Regions from separate parts of the Homo sapiens genome. Here region 2 is linked to region 1. A link means that fine-mapping ties the variant in region 1 to the expression of a gene that starts in the linked region. Tissue or cell type: blood mononuclear cells. Region 1 holds a variant in brackets; the other region holds the start of a gene. All regions are shown on one strand. Distances are between the middles of the regions.

Region 1 (2,681 bases):
CATAAGGATGCCAGAAGTATCTCCTCACCTCATCTGCAGGACCCAGCCCTTGAGCAGGGTGCACAAGACTCAGCTCGTTACTGCCTGTGGTGGCACAGTAACAGCCCCCAAAGATGTTCGTGGCCTAACCCCTGGGAGCTGCACATATGTTACCTTACATGACAATAGCGATTGGGCAGATGTGAGATGGGTGGGGAGATTATCCTGGATTGGCCAGGTCTTTACACTTGAAGGACAAGGGTCCTTAAGTGAGGGAGAGGGAGGAAGAAGAGTCAGTGTCAGAATGATGCCGCCAGAGAAGGACTCAACCGGATGTTGCTGGCTTTGAAGACGGAAGGAGTCAAGAGCCAAGGAATTCAGGCAGCCTCAAGGTGACAGGAAAGGCAAGGAAAAGGGTTCTTCCCCTAGAACTTCCTATTTTAGACTTCTGACCTCCAGAACTGTAAGACGATAGATCTGTGTTGCTTGAAGCAGCGGGTTTGTGATAATTTGTTACGGCAGCAACGGGGAACGAAAACACCACCTGCCTGCAGGTGCACATCTGCAGCACACTGCGGGGGTGGGGGTTGCTTTCACTGTGGTGAAATAGACATCACATTACATTTACTATTTTAACCACTCTAAAGTGTACAGCTCAGTGTCATTAAGTACATTTGCAATGTTGTGCAACCACCATCTCTACCCAGTTCCAAAAAGAATTTCATCATCCTCACAAAGACTCCTCCTCCCATTAGCAGTCACGCCCCATTTACTCCTCCTCCCAGCCCCTGGAAACCACAAATGCACTTTCTGTCTCTATGGATTTACCTCTCTGGGCGTTTCATAGAAATGGCTTCCTGTTATATGTGAACCTTTGTGACTGACTTCCTTGTCTTTTTTTTTTTAATTGTAGTGAACTACACATAACACAAGATTTACCGTTTTAACCATGTGCACACACACACACATGCACACACAGACACAACTCTAGTGAATATTGTTAACCACGAGTGTCATTTCTTGCTTCCTCATATCTTAGAAGGTTTCATATACTGCTTTACTTTAAGTACCTGCCCGCATGTCACTTACATATAAGGTAAGTATTATTGTTCCTGTTTTACAAAT[C/G]GAGAGAGAGAGAGAGAGAGACTTAGAAAGGTTATGTGGCCCAGGAAACCAGTTACTGAGAGATTCTTCAAGATTGCAGTTTGCCTCCCTGGGCCACTTAACCCCTGACCTCAAATGATTCGCCTGCCTTGGCCTCCCAAAGTGCTGGGATTACAGGCATGAGCCACTGTGCCTAGCCTGTAGTTCTCTATCTTGAGAGAGATGACCCTCTGTTGTGAATCACAACAGGTGCAGGAGGCATGTGGCAACATGGAAAAAGAGAAATAGAATAGCCAAGAAACTGATATTCAGAAGATCATAGAAGAGGGCTCCAGTTTCATGGTTCCAAAGACTCCCTGAATAGCCCCATGACAATTCAACACCAACATGATGAAAACCAACTCATCCCTCCACCATGTGGTTTCTCCCATAGTCCCTGTCTCTGTTGGTGGCACCTTCCAACCCAAGTGCCAAGCTAGAAACAGTAGGGTAATCTGTAACATTTTCCTTTGCACTGCCATCCACATCCTATCATCCTCACTATCTCCAGTGATGGGAGGGGCTTCCATGAAGACCTCTGACATGCACTGGAGACATATTCCCCCTTGTCTTGGGGATTAACATATGGCTCCTTGTTACTTATGCAAATTTCTGCAGCCAGCTTGAACTTCTCCTCAGAAAATGTGTTTTTCTTTTCTATTGCATCATCAGGCTGCGAATTTTCCAAACTTTTATGCTGTGTTTCCCTTTTAAAACTGAATGCTTTTAACAGCACCCAAGTCACCCCTTGAATGCTTTGCTGCTTAGAAATTTCTTTCAGCAGATACCCTAAATCATCTCCCTCAAGTCCAAAGTTCTACAAATCTCTTGGGTAGGGCAAAATGCCACCAGTCTCTTTGCTAAGATATAGCAAGAGTTACCTTTACTCCAGTTCCCAACAAGTTCCTCATCTCCATCTGAGACCACCCCAGCCCAGATTTCATTGTCCATATCATTATCAGCATTTTGGTCAAAGCCATTCAACAAGTCTCTAGGAAGTTCCCAACTTTCCCACATTTCCCTGTCTTCTTCTGAGCCCTCCAAACTGTTCCAACCTCTGCCTGTTACCCAGTTCCAAAGTCACTTCCACATTTTTGGTTATCTTTACAGCAGCACCCCACTCTACCAGTACCAATTTACTGTCTTCATCTATTTTCACACTGTTAATACAGACATACCTGAGACTGGGTAATTTATAAAGAAGAAGTTTAATGGACTCACAGTTCCATGTAGGTGGGGAGGCCTCACAATCACAGCAGAAGGTGAAAGGCACATCTTACACGGTGGCAGGCAAGAAAGAATGAAAGATCCAAGTGAAAGGGGTTTCCCCTTATAAAACCATCAGATCTCGTGAGACTTATTCACTACCACGAGAACACAATGGGGAAAACTGACCCCATGATTCAATTTTCTCCCAACCAGGTTCCTCCCACAGCACATAAGTGGAACACAACACTTAAATGGAAGCTACAATTTAAGATGAGATTTGGGTGGGGACACAGCCAAACCATATCAGCATCCCATGTTCATGAACTGGAAGAAACACAGACAAGTCAGTG
Region 2 (2,681 bases), 33 kb after region 1:
TCTCAGCTTCCTCAGTGCTTCATCCAGAGGCTCAGTAAGGTGGGCCCTGGTGAGCATCTGCCTCAGGCGCACGCGGTCGGCGGATGCTCTGGCCAGGGCCTCCTTCTCCATGGCCTTCTGCAGCAGCACTTCCAGCCGCAACACGAAAGCTGAGAGACGCTCGCCTGACTGCTGCTGAGCGGTCAGACACTTCACCCGGATGGTCGCCTGGGACTCGTTGTCTCCAAACACCTGGGCCAGGGCCGCCAGACAGTCCTGCGCCGTCCTGGCGGGGTTCTCCGCCAGGAGCGCGTGCACGAGCTGCAGGGCGGTCCCACGCAAGCCTTCCAGCAGCCTCCTCCTCCTCTCCCTTTCCGAGACCCCCTGCCACACATGCAGCATTTCGGTGGTGTGGTCTAGCCAGACCTCAAAGGACTCCTCCCCTGGGGCTGGCTGGTCCCTCCCGGAAAACACGCCCAGGCTCTGGCACCTCACGGCCTCCACCCAGGGCTGGACCGCCTGACCGATGGATCGCAGCCAGCACACCCTGCGCAGCCCCACACCCAGGGCGCCGGCCACGCTCTCCACCATCTGCCCCTCTTGCTCCGGGAAGTGGAACACGCGACCGAGACCGAGAAACTCCTCGCCTGAGCAACGGGGCACAAAGACCACGTTCCACGGGCCCCCAGTGCCGGGGATTTCCCTGGGGACCAAAGCATAGTTGACTTCCCGGTCGAGCTCGACCAGGGCCGCGGTGGCATTATCCTCCTCTCGAAACGCTTTGCCTAGCACTGTAAAGTGTCCCATAGGCCTCAGGGCAGCCTCGAGGGACTCTTGGAATTCGGCATCATCACAGTCCTCCGGGATGCCCAGGATGAGCAGGCCCCTGCGAGCGTTGACCCCCATCCACCGGCACCAGTCCTGCAGCATGGTCACCGCCATGCCCGCGATTCTGGCCAGTGCCGGGCTGACACGAGGGGCAGGATAGGGTTCCCAGCGCGGACCAGGGTGGCACGGGGCGGCGGGGGTGTGGGGGGATGAACTGGGGTCGGAGCCCAGGTCTCCACAGCCTGTGAATGCGAGCGGGCGAGAGCGAGGTTAATGCCCACCCCTCCCCACGCCCACGTCCACGTCCACGTCCACTCCCACCCCCAGCCGCCCTCCTCCCCTGGCCGCGCCTCTGCAGCCAGGCCCCGCCCCTGTCCCGCCCCGCCCCCCCGGGGGGGTGGTCCCTGCGGGTCTTGGCCTCATCCCCGCGCCGCCCCCGGACCCCGGACCCCGGACCCCGGACCCCGGACCGCTGCCCCGCAGGCTGCTTCAGTTCTGTTAGGGCGGACAGGCGAGGGGCGGCGGAGTCTCCCGGGACCCAGCGTCCCCCTCCCCGGGTGGGTCTGATACCTTTTCCCGGGGCAGGGTCCCTCCTGGTCCGGGTCCCCACAGGGCGCGTCGGGGGCTGCGCGCCGCTGCGGCGGCGGCGGGGTCGGGCGCCCCTGGCTCCCCGCGCGGGCGTTCCCTCTGACTGTGCCTCTCCCTCGCTCGCTCGGCGTTTGGGCCGGTGCGCAGGCGCCTGCTCGCAGCCGCTCTCTGCAGTGCGGTCACGCGGCCGGGGTGCGGCGGCGGTGCAGCGCGGACCCCTCCGCGTCGCCGGCCCGGGAGAGCGCAGGGCCGTTGCCGCGGGCGGGTCACGTGGCCTGGCTCTCGCCGCCTTCCCGAGCGCCCCAGGACCCCGGGTGACGTCACCTGCTCCTATCCCCTAGCCCCACCCCCACTCCCCTCGCGCCGCGGGTCCCGGGAACACAGGCGCCAGCCCACCCCCACCCCCACCGGGGTGTCCAAAGGTCTGTGGGCCGCAGGTCCCAGCGCCTTTGGCTCTCACCACAGCGGTTCCTGGTCCAGGCCTCTGCCCCTCCCGCACGTGCCCCGGAGGCAGGCGCCAGCGGGGCGACGGGTGTGCACCCCGGCGTGCCCACCAGAGGGCCAGGGAGTGGTCTGAGGTGCGTCCGGCAGCTCTGCGTTCTGGCCAGGGTCAGGGAGCCGGGTTCTGGGGCCTGTGCACCTGCTCTTGTCCTCCCCCTCCCCGTCCAGGACTGGTCCTCTGGCTGGCAAGGCCAGGCGAGGCCAGGGGCACCTGGTGCGGGTGCCATTCCGTGGAGGAGATGCCCCAGGCGCTCACGCAGCTCACGCACACCATCCTACGGAGGGTCTGCCATCTCCCCGCTGCCCATCCGGCTTCAGGGACCCGCAGCCCTCCGGCCGAAGCACTTTGCTGCCCTGGTGCCAGGAGCCAGCACCTAGGAGGGTGACCCAGCACCCAAGTATGCCCGGGCCTCGTCCGTTTTGCAGCCGCAAGTCCCGAGTCTGGGTCTCTGCCTGAGTGTGTGCCTGGAAAGGTAGTCCGCGCGGAGTGGGCTACTCAATTTGTCCCCTGCCCCCTGTGCCCTCACCAGCCTGATGGGCTCTGGGACATTGCTCTCTTGGCCCTGAGGGCAGCATGGGTGTCGTACCTCCCTGGAGACCTCCGTCTGTCAGGGCCTGAGTCAGCCTTCCATAGGTCCTTCCCCAGTCCTCTGTTGCCGGGGCTAGACACTGCGCCAGGGCAGAGCAGCCTCCGCTCAAAACAGAGATTCTGCGCCCGTGGATCTGACCACCCTGCACCTGACCCATCATGGGAGGCTGGGGCCATGTGAACAGCATCTCCACCA

The links. PIP is the estimated chance that this variant, and not a neighbour inherited with it, causes the effect.
Region 2: it holds the start of PNMA6A, and the variant in region 1 is fine-mapped to the expression of PNMA6A in blood mononuclear cells (TOPMed, PIP above 0.99). The same link has a PIP of 0.9 or more in tibial artery.

What each region holds. Positions count from the first base shown.
Region 1 is chrX:153,104,268-153,106,948 of GRCh38, reverse strand. No RefSeq gene overlaps it. Among named protein-coding and RNA genes, the nearest start is that of PNMA6A, 33 kb to the right of the region's middle. The variant C/G (reference allele first, on the strand shown) is at 1,105.
Region 2 is chrX:153,071,303-153,073,983 of GRCh38, reverse strand. PNMA6A (PNMA family member 6A) reads right to left here and starts at 1,530. Exons shown (of 2, transcript NM_032882.6): 1 at 1,378-1,530; 2 at 1-1,049. The coding sequence starts at 921.